Regions from separate parts of the Homo sapiens genome. Here region 1 is linked to region 2. Evidence: fine-mapped expression QTL. A gene starts in region 2. The other region holds a variant in brackets. All regions are shown on one strand. Distances are between the middles of the regions.

Region 1 (8,000 bases), 100 kb after region 2:
TATATTCAGTTTTCTTAGAGCAGGGCACATATATAAATTTTAAGGAATGAGGGGTTTTCAGAAAACATTGATAAAACTTTACATATTAACTTTTAATCTGGATGAAAAGTTGGTTCATCACTAACTTCATGAGCTTTTCAAAACAAGCAAGATAAAAGACACACCTGTGACCTTTGGGAACATGCAAGATGTGGCAAGTTTGGAAAAGGGCACAATGATGATTAAAAGTAACTGAAAAATTGGACCAATGAAATGAAATTGGCTTGTGGAGAACTAGCTGTGGCTACTTGATTTTAGGTCACATATTCAGACTTTTGACCAAGACGATATACTGTACCATAGATAATTCTGCTCTGAATGGAACAGGAAGGAATTAGGAGTTAGGCAAGGGAGAATTCAGGGTAACTTCAGTTCCATTCAGTCACTATTCACTAAATGCTTATGATTTGCTGGGAACTGGCAATACAGAGATTTTTTTTAAAGAAAAGGTATGGTATCTGCTCTTAAGCCGTTGACATTTAGTAGGGTTTCACAGAAAAGTAGTTTCCTGAAAGGGCTGGGTCTCGAAGGGAGAAATGGAGTTTGCTAAGATGGAGGTATTCTGGACCCAGGGAGCAGCAGTGGCAAAGGCATAGAAGTGTGAGGTGGCATTCTGTGCAACGAGGACTGCACAGAGTCTGCTTGCTGGAGATGAGGTTCCATTCCCTGTTCATATATTAATATGATTCCTCTAGTAGGCTCTCTTTTCAATTTAGACTCTCCACACCCTTCCTTTCACCCTCACTCTCTGCTGATTACTTTGCCTTATACTTTGTTGAGAAATAGAAGCCATTAAACCCAAACTTCCTCAACTTCCATCCAAGACCTACAGACCCACTACACGAGAATTACACCCATCTGATCCTCTTTCTTCGCTTGAGTCTCCTCGTCCTGTCACAGGCCACAAGATTTTTCTCCTTCCATCTCCTTTTTCCAGGTTCCTTACCATCATCAGGCATACCTGTTCTGATTTGTTCATCTTAAAATGAAACCCAGCCTTTTTGAAAATCCTGACATGCTGCAAGATGGATGATCCTTGAGAACATTATGCCAAGTGATATGTCAGTCACAAAAAGACAAATACTATATGATTCCACTTAGAATCATAGTACCTAGAGGTACCTAGAGTATTCAAAATTATAGAGACAGAAAGTAGAATGGTGGTTGCCAGGGGTTGGAAGCAGGGGGGAGTGAGGAGTTACTCTTTAATGGGTAGAGTTTCAGTTTTGCAAGATGAAAAGAGTTATGGAGATGAAAGGTGATGATGGTTGCACAACATTATGACTGTATTTAATACTACTAAACTGAACACTTAAATATGGTTAGGATGGTAAATTTTATGTGTATTTTAACATAATAAAAAATTGGAAAATAAAATATTTTTTAAAAGTTATAGGACTCTCATATGCCCACATCCAGAAGGAAATGCTACATTTCTTTCTTTCTTTTTTTTTCTTTTTTTTTTTGAGATGGAGTCTTGCTCTGTTGCCCAGGCTGGAGTGCAGTGGCATGATCTCTGCTCACTGCAACCTTTGTCTCCTGGGTTCAAGCGAATTCTCCTGCCTCAGACTCCCGAGTAGCTGAGTTTACAGGCGCACACCACAATGCCCGGCTAATTTTTGTATTTTTAGTAGAGACGGGGTTTCACTATGTTGGCCAGGCTGGTCTCGAACTCCTGACCTCAGGTGATCCACCTGCCTCGGCGTCCCAAAGTGCTGGGATTACAGGTGTGAGCTACCACGCCTGCCCAGAAATGCTACATTTCTTTAAGAGATTAGTGAAAATAAAGATGTCATCTTTATCCCCCCCACCAAAAAAATCCCACAACTCTTCCTTGATACCACCACATTCCTCTCCAGAGACCACCTCATTTTACTGTTCCACTAAGACTAATGTCTCAAAAGAGCCACGCTGTGTCTATTTCCCTCTTCTATTCACTCTTCAATTCACTATAATCTGACTTCCACCCTCCACTGAAAACTGCTTTTGTCAAGGTCAGGTCATCTGTACTCTCCATGTGCACATCTAGTGGATACTTGACCTTGTGGCAGCATTTGACAGTTTGCCCCTCCCTCCTGGAATCTTGCTCCCGGCTCCTATGACACCATGCTGGTTTTCCTCTTGCATCACTGGCTGCTGCTTTCCCTTCTGTCCCTGACTCTGAGTAATGGAGGTCTAAAGGGCATTGTGCTGGACTCTCTTGTTTCTCTATAATTCTGTTACAGTCCCTGCCCAGGGATTTAAATGCTTTCACTATGCTGATGATTTCTCCATTTTATCTCTAGCTGGCCCTCTCCACTGAGCTCCAGACTCTCATATCCATGGCTTTCTTGTTTTATAAAATAGTATACTTACTGTGCCTTAAACAGAACTTGGATCCCCTCTATTCCCACTACATTCCTCCTTGTCCTCGTAATGGCCTCTCCATCACCCAGTTATTCAGGCCAAATGCCTGGATAATCCTTGCCCTTTCCTCTTTGTATCTCCCTCACCCCCACAGCAAGGCTTGTGGATTCTATTTCTATTTTGAATCTATTCCCACTCTCTATCTACTGGCAGACTGCCTCTGTAGTCCAGGCCACCATCACCTCCTATCTGGATTATTCCAACAGCCTCCTAACTAGTGCCCACTCCTCTTGCTCCTCTCTCCATCGTCATTCGTTCAGCACACTGTTGTAAGAATAATCACAAATCAAACAATTTCACTTCCATGTTATCATTTCTATGGATTTCCAAATTCCCTACTTTGGCCTGCCTGCATCATCATTTGGCCTGCCTAGTTCTCCAATTTCATTTCATGTCACTCTCCCCACACCTACTGTATTATAGAGACTCTGGTCTTATTTGACTTTCTTTTAACATACTCCTTTCTCCCTCAGGATCTTTGCAGTTTCCTCTTTGAATGGCTAGCTCCTTTTCTTCCTTTAATAAGGTCTTAGAGGTCATTCCTTGACTGTCCTTCCTAAAGTAGGTTCCTTTTTTTTAAATTTAAAATTATTTTTTATTGATGCATAACTGATGTACATAGTCTCAGGGTACAAGTACTAATTTAATACATTCATGTAATTTGTGAAAATCAAATCAGTATACTTGGGATATCCATCACCTTAAATATTTGTCTTTTCTTTATTCTAGGAACATTTGAATTATTCTCTTTTGATTATTCTCTTTTTGCTATTTAGAAATGTAAATGTATAGTAAACTATAGTCACCCTACTCCTGTTTCAAAGTACTTGGTACAGTTTGCAGTTATTTTGTGTTTACTTCTTTTTCTCCTCCACTGGAAGAATATAAACTAAGTGAGTGCAAGGACTGGGTCTGATCTGTTCACTATCATATCCCCAGTGTTTTGAAATGTCTTGCTTGGCATGTAGCAAGAAGTCATTAAATATTTATGAAACGAGGCCAGGCACAGTGGCTCACATCTGTAATCTCAGCACCTTGGGAGGCCAATGTGGGAGGATCGATTGAGCCCAGGAGTTTGAGACCAGCCTGGGCAACATAACAAGGCCCCTGTCTCTACAAAAAATTTGAAAAATTAGCTGGGCATGGTGGCATGCGCCTATAGTCCCAGCTTACTTGGGAGGCTGAGGCAAGATTGCCTGAGACCAGGAGTTCGAGGTTACAGTAAGCTGTGACAGGACCACTGCACCCCAGCCTGGGCGACAGAGTCCCTGTGGGAAAGAGAGAGAGAAAAAGTATGAAATAATAGAAGGAAAAGGGAAAGAGGAAGGAGAAATGGATTTGAGGACTGCAGGGAGACATACATGAGAGGAGAGGGGTAGAAAAAGACAGATGCTTATTGAACAACTGCTGCACTTTTTTTTTTTTTTTTTGACAGGTTCTCACTCTGTCACCCAGGATGGGGTGCAGTGGTGTGATCATAGCTCACTGCAGCCTCTATCTCCCAGGCTCAGGTGATCCTTCCACTTTAGCCTCCTGAGTAGCTAGGACTACAGACACATGCCACCATAATAGGTTAATAAATAACTTATTTATTTAGAAATGGTCTGGTTCCATCACCCAGGCTCAAGCAATCCTTCCATCTCAGCCTCCTGAGTAGCTGGGACTACAGGCACGCACCACCACACCAGGCCAATTTTTGTGTTTTTTATAGAGACGGGGTTTCAACATGTTGCCCAGGCTGGTCTCGAACTCCTGAGCTCAAGCGATCTGTCCGCCTTGGCCTCCCAAAGTGTAGGATTACAGGTGTGAGCCACTGTGCCTGGCTAACTATATTATTTATTTTTTTGTTTCTAAATTGTCTCCTCCACTAGGATGTAAGATTCATGAGGGTAGCTTCTTTGGTTTACTGTATTTTCAAGAAAAACTTCTAGCTCCTAATGAGCTGATTATGTGTTGAAAAAATGAGAAGAAGAGCTTAATTGTTTCTTTGTTTATGACGGAGTTTCGCTCTTGTTGCCCAGCATGGAGTGCAATGGTGCCATCTCGGCTCACTGCAACCTCCGCCTCCTAGGTTCAAGCGATTCTCCTACCTCAGCCTCCTGAGTTGCTGGGATTACAGGCATGCGCCATCATGCCCAGCTAATTTTTGTATTTTTAGTAGATACGGGGTTTCTCCATGGTGGCCAGGCTGGTCT[C/T]GAACTCCCGACTACAGGTGATCCACTCGCCTCGGCCTCCCAAAGTGCAGGGACTATAGGCATTGAGCCATCGCGCCCGGCCAAGCTTAATTATTTTATATGCTTACTAAAGATTTCCTTTGGATAAGATTTGCAACATCTCTGTTCTTAGGGTTTTTGAAAATTTTGAAAATTACTATTTTATAAATGTTGAAAAACCTAGTACCTATGTGACTCCATGAATTGAAACAGTTTCTTTTCCCCAGTTCTTTTAGAACTCATCAAATTGAAGCTGTTCCAACCAGCTCTGCAAGTGATGGATTTAAGGCAAATCTTGTTTTTAAGGAGATTGAGAAGAAACTTGAAGAGGTAAGATTTATGTAAAATATTGCCAGGAAGGACCTTGAGGCTAGAGGAAGCAGACACAGGTTTCAGGTGTTGCCACGAGGTGGTACAATTGAAAATTTATATCATGTTGTCAAGTATTGAGTGTAGTTAGATTTCTGAGTGTCTATTAAGGCTTCCTTGTAATTCTAAAAGGAATGCATTTCAGAAATGTATGAATCTCCAGATTTGAGCTAAAGAACTATAATAAATACTGTTAAAATTGTCACTCTTTTCTAGGTCCTCTTTGTCAGAGGGTCATTCAGTCATGGGCAAAGTTCAAATATAAAGGGATTCTAATTTATTTTGCTGTAATTTCCTTTGAATTAAAACGGTCTTACTTAAAATCATTTCAAAGAATAATATTTAAAATGAGCCTTTTTTGTATATATATCAAAATTCTTTGTAAAAAGAAATTGTGTTTTGATTTCTTAAAGTAGTTAAAAAATTTTTTTGTTTTAAAAATGATGTTAATTTAAAAAATACTATACAGAAATATATGTTTATGAATAGTATAAATTTTATACTATACTTTTGTTTTAACCTTTTAAACAAAAGTTTAAAATCTCCCCAAATTCTGCCACTCAGAGTTTACTGAAATGTTAACAGTGGTTAACATTCTTTCAGACATCTTTCTCTGTGTATATTAACTTACAGTTTTAACCTAGGGTCAAAAAAACCTATTGTTTTTTGTTTTGTTTTGTTCTGAGACAGTGTCTTGCTCTGTCACCCAGGCTGGAGTGCAGTGGTATGATCTTGGGTCACTGCAACCTTCACCTCCCGGGTTCAAGTGATTCTTGTTCCTCTGCCTCCTGAGTAGCTGGGATTACAGGCACCCACCACCACGCCAGGCTAATTTTTGTATTTTTAGTAGAGACAGGGTTTCACCATGTTGGTCAGGCTGGTCTTGAACTCCTGACCTCAAGTGATCCACCCGCCTTGGCCTCCCAAAGTGCTAGGATTACAGGGGTGAGCCACCGTGCCCACCACAACACCTGTTGTTTTTTATTATACTATATATGCGGATCTATTTTTATATACAATAATTAGTTCTTGATAGGTAATAATCATACTAAGGCAATCTAAAAATAACTCTCCAGAAAGAAAGTTATTCTCTTCACGCAAAATTGATATTTATTTCATTGTTTTAAACTTAGAAGAATCTTGGGATCTCTTTCTGTTTTTTTTTTTTTTTGAAACAGAGTCTCACTTTGTCGCCCAGAATGGAGTGCAGTGGCATGATCACGGCTCACTGCAGCCTTGAGCCCCTGGGCTCAAGTGATCCTTTCACCTTGGCCCCCCAAAGTGTTGGGATTACAGGCGTGAGCCTCTGCCTGGATGTATTTCATTATGGATTTTAGATCTGAGACCGTATAAGGCATGGTTACAGCCATAATCACAATGCAAATTACACATCTATTAAGGTGATCAAAGTGGGCTGGAATAAATAGAATGTTTAAACTGTATTTCACTCACGTTAGAGCCATGGTGTGAAAGGCAAACATTGTGCTTATCTCATAACCCTTATTGTAGGCCAGAGGACTACTTAATATCTGAGATGATTGCACTGTGGATGGGAATACAGGTGATATAACTGATGTGTCTTGTGAAAGAACCCAGTATTCCCAGGACTTTCATTATAATCTACAACCGTCCTGAGGGAGAGCAGGGCCAGGCATTGGCCTAGAAGCTGCAGACCTGTCCTGCAACCATCTTGGGATGCATCCACATGGGGCTACCTGTTTTATAACCTATGTTTTTCTTTTGACATTATGTTCCATGGCCATAAATCTAAATCTTTACCCCCTGTTTTTTTTTTTGAAACAAAGTCTCGCTCTGTCACCCAGGCTGGAGTGCAGTGGCGCGATCTTGGCTCACTGCAACCTCCACCTCCCGGGTTCAAGCGATTCTCGTGCCTCAGCCTCCCGAGTAGCTGGCATTACAGGCACGTGCCACCACACCCAGCTAATTTTTGTATTTTTAGTAGAGATGGGGTTTCACCATATTTGCCAGGGTGGTCTCTTATCTCCTGACCTCGTCATCTTCCCACCTTGGCCTCCCAAAGTGCTGGGATTACAGGCATGAGCCATCGTGCCCGGCCGTTTACCCTCATTTTTAATACATAGTATGTATTCATATGTATTTGTCAAAATTTAAGTAGCTTCCTGTGATGAATATCAGGTTGTATTTAACATTTTCAAGTAAAACAGTGCTGTAATAAATTTCCTGTTGCACTCATATTTAAGTATTTAAGCTATGATCAATTTAATATAAATAAAGGAGGAAAATTGTTGGGTGGTTGGCTACGTGCATTTTGTATGCTGATACATATTGCCAAACTACCCACCAGAAAGAGAGTACTAACTTACAAACATTACCAATTCATGAGAGTGACTATTTTTTCCTTTTAAAACATTTATTTATTTTTATTTTTGTAAAGATGGGGTCTTGCTATGTTGGAGACTAACTATTTTTACTTCACACCTCTGATACTATGTTGGCTGGTTTTTAAAAAAATCTCTGGGCTGGGCACAGTGGCACACCCCTGTAATCCCAGCATTATGGAAGGCTGAGGCGGGTGGATCACTTGATGTCAGGAGTTCAAGACCAACCTGGCCAACATAGCAAAACCCTGTCTCTACTAAAAATATAAAAATTAGCCAGGCATGATGGCGCAGTCCCAGATAGCTGTAGTCCCAGCTACTAGAGAGGCTGAGGCAGGAGAATCGCTTGAACCTGGAAGGCGGAGGTTGCAGTGAGCCAAGATCACGCCACTGTACTCCAGCCTGGGTGACAGAGCGAGACTCCACCTCAAAAAAATTAAAAAAAAAAAAAAAAAAAAAGGCTTTGCCAACCTAGTAGGAAAAAATATCTCATTGTTTCTTGAACTTCTTTCATTACAAGTGTTCCTATAAAATGAAGTTGCACTCTATAAAGTCTCGGCTTAAAAGTTTTGGTTTTTAAAAATGCTGCCAATATATTCCTGCAGAGGAACAC
Region 2 (9,339 bases):
AAAGGTTCGCTAGCGGCCCAGGGCGGGCGCGCGGCTGGAGAGGCACCCTCCTCACTCTGCCCGCTGCCGCACTGGGCACTGGGACTGGCTCCGCTGCCTCCGCCCCCGAACCGGGCCAGGACCCTTGGCGGGGGAGGGGAACGCGCACTTAAACGCTCCTGGCCTGGGGGCCGCGGGGCCCAGTCCTACCCGTGCGGACCCCGCTCCCCCTTCCACACAGTCGGAAGACCCCAAAGGGCCTTTGAAGAGACCGAGGTTGCCAGAGGCCCCCCGCCCCCAGCTAGAGTCTGGAGCCACTAAGGCGGCCGCCCACCTCTCAGGCCTGGAGCGGTTTGGGGCGCCTAGAACTGGGAGGGAGGGACTGGGGATCGAATCCTTCAACGCACTGAGCGGCCCACCTGCCGGTCCCCCGCTGCCTCCGGCCTAGTCCCAGTCGCGTCATGCGCCGCCCCGGAACTGCACATTTACCTTGGTCCGGACCCGCCAGGGCGCGCACTTGGATCTCTGAGCCCCCGGCCGCCCCGTCGGAAGCGCAGCCGCGGGCCCGAAGGGGCCTCCAGGGGCGCAGGAGGCACAGAACGCGCAGCATCGGGGCGCAGGCTGGGAGTGAAGGTGCTTCTCCGGCCCTGCACCGTCTCGGCTCCCGCTGAGAGCTCGCAGTTCCGGCGTCGGGCGAAGCCTTCGCCAATTGCTCCACCTATGGGCCAAGCGTCTGTTGCCTCCTTCCGCACCTCCCGGGGACAGGGAGACTTGAGCGGAGGAGGTCGGGGGAAGCCCAGCTCCTCTGTGTGATTTGGTGTAACTCTGTCAACCTCCCAGCGTCAGTGTTTTAATCCTGTAAAATGGGGATAATAGTGACTACCCCGTGGTGGTGTGAAGATTAAATGGGGTGTGTGAACCTTGCTTGCACATATGCTCAATTTCATTTTTTAAATGAAATGACATTTAATGAGTCCCTTGAGCGTGTCTACACTTGCGAACCTCACTGCTTCACCTCCCATTTGCGCCTCACTTTTTTTTTTTTTTTTTTTTTTTGAGACGGAGTCTCGCTGTGTCGCCCAGGTTGGAGTGCTGTGCCTTGATCTTGGCTCACTGTAACCTCCGCCTCCGGGTTCAAGCGATTCTCCTGCCTCAACCTCCCAAGTAGCTGGGATTACAGGGACGCGCCACCACGCCCAACTAATTTTTTTTGTATTTTTAGTAGAGGCAGGGTTTCACCATGACGAAACCCTGTCTCTGTTAAACATTCAAAAAAATTAGCTGGGCGTGGTGGCGGGCGCCTGTAATCCCAGCTACTTGGGAGGCTGAGGCAGGAGAATCACTTGAACTCGGAAGGCACAGGTTCAGTGAGCTGAGATCGCGCCACTGCACTCCAGGCTGGGCAATGAGCGAAACTGCGTCCCAAAAAAAAAAATTATTCTCTTAAACACAGTATATACAAAGCACTCTCACATTGCTGATGTGAATGTCTTTAAATGAAAAGCAACTGGTAATTTATATCAAAATTATAAATGCACAAGCTCATTGCCCCAGAAATTCCAATTTTAGAAATTTAACCTACAGATAAATCCACACAGCTGTGAAATGACACGTGTTCATGGCTGTACATTGCAGCATTGTTTATAATAGCAAAAGACTGGAAGCACATGGTGCTGTCATGTGCTTCTGGTGAGGCCTCAGGAAGCTTACAATCATGGCTGAAGGTGACAGGGATCCAGCATGTCACATGGCGAGAATAGGAACAAGAAAATTAGGTGGGGAGGTCCCAGTTTATCGCCAAGGGGATGGTGCTAAACCATTCACAAGGGATCTGTCCCCATGATCCAGTCACCTCCCAACAGGGCCCACCTCCAACATTGGGAATCATATTTCAACGTGAGATTTGGAGGGATCCAACACCCAAACTATATCACAGTCTCAATATCCATCAATAGAGGGTTGGTTAAATAAATTATGGGGCTGTGTGTGGTGGCTCACCCTATTATTCCAACACTTTGGAAGGCCAAGGCAGGTAGGTCCCTGGAAGCCAGGAGTTTGAAACCAGCCTGGGAAATATAGCAAGCCCCTATCTCTACTTAAAAAAAAAAAAAAGGTACATCAATAATCTGAATACTATGCAGCTATAACAAAACACAGGAAACTGTTTATGCATTGATATGAAACAATCTTCAAAATCTATTGGTATATGAAACAAGTCAAAATGCAGAATAGTGTGTAAAGAAAGCTAAAATTTGGCCGGGTCTGGTGGCTCATGCTCATGAACCTAGCACTTTGGGAGGCCGAGACAGGAGGATTGCTTGAGGCCAGGAGTTCAAGACCAACCTAGCCAACATAGCAAAACCCCACCTCTATTGAAAGAAATAATAAAGAAAACAAAAATTTGTGTTAACAAGGGGGATAAGAGTATGCATGTGTATATTTGATTGTATTTACATAAAACATCTTTGGAAGGATAGGGAAGAAGAACCGAGAGGCTGGGAATAAGGGTAAGAGAGACAAGTTTTACGGTTTGACCTGTTATACGTTTTTGGACACAGGATGTTGTTGTTGCCCAGATTGGAGTGCAGTGGCAGTATCTTGGCTCACTGCAGCTTCTGCCTCCCGGGCTCAGGTGATCCTTCCACCTCACCCTCCTGAGTAGCTGGGACCACAGGTACATGCCACAACATTGGCTAATTTTTGTATTTCTTGTAGAGACGGGGTTTTGCCATGTTGCCAAGGTTGGTCTCGAACTCCTGAGCTCAGGCGATTTGTCCACCTTGGCCTTCCAAAGTGCTGGGATTACAGGTGTGAACCACCATGCCTGGCCCCTTTTATACTTTTTGAATCTTGATTTTTGTTTTAAGTATAACTTACTCAAAATAAATAATGAAAATGAAAACAAAGCACAATAACAAAAATTAAAAACATGCCTTAGCAAAAATAAAACTAATATATACACAAAATCAAAACATACAAACTAGCCAGGCCCGGTGGCTCATGCCTGTAATCCCAGCACTTTAGGAGGCTGAGGTGGGTGGGTCACCTGAGGTCAGGAGTTCAAGACCAGCCTGGCCAACATGGTGAAACCCTGTCTCTACTAAAAATACAAAAATTAGCCAGGCGTGGTTGTGGGCAGCTGTAATCCCAGCTACTCAGGAGGCTGAGGTGCAAGAATCGCTTGAACCCAGGAGGTGGAGGTTGTAGTGAGCTGAGATCACACCACTGCACTCCAACCTGGGCAACAGAGTGAGATTCTGTCTTAAAAAAAAAAAAGAAGCAAAAACAAAACATACAAACTATAATTGGGTATAAGATTAAAAGAAAAACCTTCCCTCCTCCATATTCCATGCATTTATTGTATTCTATTTTATTGAGACAGGGTCTCACTCTGTTGCCCACATTGGAGTACAGTGGTGCAGTCAGTTCACTACAACCTCAGACTCCTGGGCTCAGGGGATCCTCCCGTCTCAGCCTTCCGAGTAGCTGGGACTACAGGAGTGGGCCACCACACTTGGCTCATTGTTAAATTTTTTGTAGAGACAGAGGTCTCCCTATGTTGCCAGGCTGGTCTCAAACACCTGGCCTCAAGTGATCCTCCCACCTCAGCCTCCCAAAGTGCTGGGATTACAGGTGTGAGCCCCCATGCCTGGCATCCACCCATTTAAAAAGATTTTTCTTGTTTTTTCTTCTTTTTTTTTAGAGATAGGGAGCTATGTTGCCCAGGTTGGTCTTGAATTCTTGGGCTCAATCAATCCTCCCATTTTGGCCTCCCAAAGTGCTGGGATTACAGGCATGAGCCACTGTGCCTCGCTGCTTTTTGTCTTTTTGTATTAACAGAAAAGGTCTCACTATGCTGTCCAGGCTGGAGTGCAGTGGCTATTCACAGGCATAATCGTAGCTCACTGCAGCCTTGAACTCCTGGACTCAAGCAGCCTTTCTGCCTCAGCTCCTCAAGTAGATGGGATTACAGTCTCGTACCACCACACCCAGCTTAAAATGATATTTATTGTATTTTATCTGGCATTTCTGGGTGTTTTTTTTTGGTATACTTATTCATGCCACAAAGTAAGTGGTACTTATATAAGTGTACAGTGATTTTCCAGGTTCCTTTCTAACATAGCTTGCTTAAATTCACAGGTCGACTAATGTTTCATTTCATGTGCATGCTAAGTGAAGCTGGTTAGTGATGACCATAAGCAGGTGGAGAAGCTTTCAATATTTTACTTATTTTATCAGTACTCCTGATTTTATAAATGATGAGGCTCATTAACCCCATTCCTACTCAAATCTCCTGATAAACTTGGTTATAATAGGGCTTCATGGGGATCCAAACATTTTTAATAATGTTTTGAAGCATCTTGGTGTGGGACAAACAGCTCAGGCTACCCCAGAGCCCCACATCCAATGACTTAGAAAAGTCTGTGTTTTATAGTGGGAAAAGTTTGGATTATTTAGTCCTTCACATTGGAAAGGGAAGTGTTTTTTCTCAGTCTTTTCGGTATTAACAAATACCTTTTATATTACTATCTATCCCCTCTGCCCTCTATGGACTCTTATTTTGAAAGCAATATCCAGTGGACAGCCAGGATTTGTTACATAACAATTAATCTTGACCTTAGGACTTGTTGTTCTATTAGGTTGGTAACTTTGTCTGATCCACCAATCATATTGCTGTCTTGTCAGTCCATCAGTTTCAAGAAACAACTGTACATGTCAGTGCCCTGATTTGTGTTTGTTTTTCTTTTTTTTTTTTTTTTGTTTCGTTTTGGTTTTTTAGAGACGTGGTCTTGGTATGTTGCCCAGGCTGGAGTGCAGTGGCTATTCAGAGGTGTAATCATAGCACATTTGTAGCCTTGAATTCCCAGGCTCAAGTGATCTTTCTGCCGAAGCCTCCTGAGCAGATGGGAGGCGTGCATCACTGAGCGCAGCAATTTTACTAAGTTGGTCTAGTCCTAGCTCAGTAGTTCTTTACTTAGCACAGAGGGGGCTTCTTAGAATCTCCTAAACTTGATCTTAGCCAAATGGCCAAGAAGCAATCCTTAGAATCTTCTAGGAGAGCCTTTCTAAATGCTGATACTGCAAACCGAAAAGTATATGAAACGGATCTCAATTAATTTAGAAGTTAATTTTGCCAAGTTTAAGGACGTGCATCATCTTTGGAGACAGGTCCGTGCCTTTCTCCAAAGATGATTTTGAGGGCTTCAGTTTTTATAGGGGAAGGGGCAGATATTGGGGAAAGATGAATAAATTTTAAAAAGATGTGGGTAGATAAGAGGCAAACGGTTGCATTCTTCTGAGTCTTTGATCAACCTTCACATGTGAGGGGGGTAGAGAAATAGTCACTTATGCATTCATCTAGCTCAATGAATCTGCATTTTTACATAAGATAAAATAAACCGGGGAGCCGGGCGCGGTGGCTCACGCCTGTAATCCCAGCACTTTGGGAGGCCAAGGTGGGTAGATCACCTAAGGTCAGGAGTTCCAGACCAGCCTGGCCAACATGGCGAAACCCCATCTCTACTAAAAATACAAAAATTAGCGGGGCGTGGTGGCGCGCGCCTGTAATCCCAGATACTCGGGAGGCTGAGGCAGGAGGATTGCTTGAACCTGGGAGGCGGAGGCTGCAGTGAGCCGAGTTCGCGGCATTGCACTCCAGCCTGGGCGACAGAGCGAGACTCCGGTCTCCAATAAACATGGAAGGCTGTTTCTCCCCGGTTTGCTGGAATAAAGTCTCTGTCTTCCAAATTCCTTTTCGGAGAACTTTTGTTCACAAGATTAAAAAGGTCACGCAGCTGGTGACGGAGCCTGGGTTTTTTGATTTAGACATTGTATCCATGTGTGAGATCCTGCCCATCCCCGCTTTCTTGGTGTCCTGTGAGTTTAAATTCATGAATTCACTCTCAACTGCCACCGCTAACAGGACACAGGCCAATTCCAACACGAACCCCAACGGCTCTCCTCAGGGTCACCTTTCATGAGTCCGCTTTCCGGCCAACCCCTCCTCTCAGTCTTAGGCCCCACTGCAAGCCTACTCCCGCTCACCGTACAGAACCTAAGCACAGGATCAGAGATGGGGACAGGTTGACTCAGTCCCATGCCCAAGTCCGCAAATTAGGGATTCGGCTGCCTAAGGGCTAGAGAACGCTCCCCGCCCCACAGGACGCGCCCCACCCCGCCCCCTCCTCCTGCCCCTACGCACGCGCACTCTCACGCGCCTGTGTTGCCGCCCGCGGCCCTGGCTTCGGGCTTCAGGGAGCTCTGGTGCAGTCTCCGCCTGTCAGTGCCGGCAGTCGTCCGCGGCGCCCGCCCCGGTCCCGCACTGGTGCAGCCATGTCCTCTTCCCCGTGGGAGCCTGCGACCCTGCGCCGGGTGTTCGTGGTGGGGGTTGGCATGACCAAGGTAAACCGAGCAGCGGCCCTGCTGGCCCTCTGAGGCTCGGGGGCGGTCGGTGCCTGGGTTTCTCTGTCCCTCCGGTCTCCTAGCTTCGACTGCTCCGCGCGTGGGTCATCGGCGTGGCGACTTGGTGGCTTGTACTCTGCGGAATCTCTGGGGTCATAGCGTCTCGGGCTGGTTCCTGCGGCCTTCTGCTTCCTCCTTCCCTTTTCTTCTGGTCAGAGTTCATGAAGCAGCCCCGAGATAATCCAAGGATCTCACCTCTTTAGATTCTGAGCGGAGTCCCGAGGTGTGTGGGCTGGCTTGCCCCGGAGGGAGGCAGGTCGCGAATGCCGCCTGCTCGGCCCTCCCAGGAACAGCCCCCACAGGAGCCCTCACAGAGACAGCTCCAGATGTGGATGGCGAGGAGAAACGCTCCTGATGCCCAGCGCCTCGGCCCGAGTGGCAGATTCCGGCCTCCCTCTGTCCCTCCAGTGACTGCTTGGGACCCGGACGCCGCAGGCTCCCACGGCCGTTTTCCCCTCATCGCCCGCATGCTCCTTAATGCCAAACTGCCTTTCGTTTCTCCCCGGACGCAGTTGTCTGATGCCTCTGTTGCTTTGCTTCTGTTCTGTTTGTACCGTGTATCTTCACCTGTTAACTTTTGTGCATCCTGAAAGGATCCGTTCAGATCGGATCTTCTCCAGGACGCCTCGGATCCTCCTGACTTTCCCCTAGAGCCTTGCACTGTGCTTACCTCTGTCCTGCACTTACTGTGCTCGGCAGTACCGGGCAGTACTAAAGCTCATAGGCGTCTGCGCGCCCTCTTAGCATGGCAGCTCCTCTAGACTGGGTACCTGGCTTATTCACTGCTGTGCCCCTCGCCCTGAACGTTCCTGATGCTTGAAGACCCTCAGTGAATGTTAGTTGAACAATACTAAATGGATATGCTTTGTGAAAGAGTTCCTAGGGAGAGTTCTATTTCTGAGAAAACAGCCCTAAAATGTTTATTATTTTACCAGTGGGCTGAGCGTACCTAATTCAGTCCAACATGTAAATAGGCCGGGGCCGGTGGCTCACGCCTGTAATCCCAGCACTTTGGGAGGCCAAGGCGGGTGGATCACCTGAGGTCAAGAGTTCGAGACCAGCCTGGCCAACATGGTGAAACCCCGTCTCTACTAAAAATACGAAAATTAGTCGGGCATGGTAGCACACGCCAGCTACTCGGGAGGCTGAGGTGGGAGGATTGCTTGAGCCTGGGAGATGGAGGTTGCAGTGAGCTGAGATCACGCAACTGCACCCCCAGCCTGGGCCATAGAGTCAGTCCTTGTCTCAACAAAAACAAAAAATATCCATGGAAATGGAAAAGTGGACCAATACCTTATGAAGCGGAAGGACATCATCCTAGTGTTTCACAGAAGGGGAGGCTTCTAACACAGGTGGACAGTAGGATCTTTCGAAGTAAGGTATTAATGCAGTCAAACCTTCCTCTGGCTGCTGAATGCCTGATTATATGTGCTGTATGGAAAAGCACAGTTGTCTAAACCTTTGGGAAATAGATGTATTCCTTTTTCCTCAAGTTGGGAGGTAGAGGTCGGGGAGGTGTTACAGTCCAGAGGAAAGTGGTGAGGAGTTTGGGTAGTGCCATTAATGATGTGCCTATCTGGCCAGTGTACTTTGCTATAGGTCTGGTCTTCTGCACCTTGGGACAGAGTTTGATGGAGGAGGGAGAAATATTGACTAGACAACACTGTAACACTTTTTTTTTTTTTTTTGGAAGACGGAGTTTTGCTCTGTCAACCAGATGGGAAGGCAGTGGTGCAATCATAGCTCACTGCAGCCTTGAACTCCTGGACTCTAGCGATCCTACCGAGTAGCTAGGACTACAGGCATTCTACCATACCTGGCTAATTAAAAAAAAATTTTTTTTGTAGAGACAGGGTCTCACTACTTACTACTAGATGGGTCTCATTTCTACCATATATTACTGTTATAATTTATCATAATACTTTATTTTTATTTTTTGAGACAGAGTCTCACTCTGTCCCCCAGTCTGGAGTGCAGTGGGGCGATCTCAGCTCACTGCAACCTCTGCCTCCCAGGTTCAAGTGATTCTTCTGCTCAGCCTCCCAAGTAGGTGGGATTACAGGTGTGTGCCACCATGCCCAGCTACTTTTTGTATTTTTATTTATTTTATTTTTTGACACAGATTCTTGCTCTGTCGCCCAGGCTGGAATGCAGTGGCGCGATCTTGGCTCACTGCAAGCTCCGCCTCCTGGATTCACGCCATTCTCCTGCCTCAGCCTCCCGAGTAGCTGGGACTACAGGTGCCCACCACCACGTCCGGCTAATTTTTTGTATTTTTTAGTAGAGATGGGGTTTCACCGTGTTAGCCAGGATGGTCTTAACCTCCAGATCTCGTGATCCACCCGCCTCGGACTCCCAAAGTGCTGGGATTACAGGCGTGAGCCACCGCACCTGGCCGTCAACAGGTTTTAACACAACTAAGTCACAGCTGCCGTCTGGCTGACAGCAAGCCTCTTCACTTATGCTGCCTATCTCCTGATATACCCTCTTTTCATCTACTTAAATTCTACTTATCTTTCAAGAACTAGGCTAAGTCCCATACCTTCTTAAAACTTCCTCAGACTACTCTAAGTTACACTGGTCACCTTTTTTGAAATTCTGGTGACCTTATAGTCAGAACATGTAATTTAGCACTTCAGTTTTCTAGTACTTTTATGTATGGTAATTTCATGAAATACATCTTACATCACAATCCAGTACACACATACAAAACTTATTTGTAACAACTGAAACAATTTGTTAAAGCAACGCTTATTACATGTGATGAACTCTTGGTATCCCTAAAGTATATCTTAAAAAAAAAAAAAATTGCTGCTTGGCTGGATGTGGTAGCTCATGCCTGAAATCTCAGTACTTTAGGAGGCTGAGGTGGGTGTATCTCTTGAGCCCAGGGTTTGA

What was found.
Region 1: its variant is fine-mapped to the expression of SCP2 in whole blood (TOPMed, PIP above 0.99).

The regions. Positions count from the first base shown.
Region 1 is chr1:53,023,084-53,031,083 of GRCh38, forward strand. SCP2 (sterol carrier protein 2) reads left to right here. Exons shown (of 16, transcript NM_002979.5): 13 at 4,886-4,988. Among named protein-coding and RNA genes, the nearest start is that of PODN, 35 kb to the right of the region's middle. The variant C/T (reference allele first, on the strand shown) is at 4,641.
Region 2 is chr1:52,921,085-52,930,423 of GRCh38, forward strand. It overlaps SCP2 (sterol carrier protein 2), which reads left to right and starts at 6,192. Exons shown (of 16, transcript NM_002979.5): 1 at 6,192-6,381. The coding sequence starts at 6,313. It overlaps ECHDC2 (enoyl-CoA hydratase domain containing 2), which reads right to left and starts at 656. Exons shown (of 10, transcript NM_001198961.2): 1 at 469-656. The coding sequence starts at 589. It also overlaps the pseudogene LOC112268226 and the pseudogene LOC100652967. RefSeq lists enhancers at 359-1,041, 6,287-6,802, 6,455-6,514, 6,525-6,614 and silencers at 376-554, 403-632, 5,955-6,234.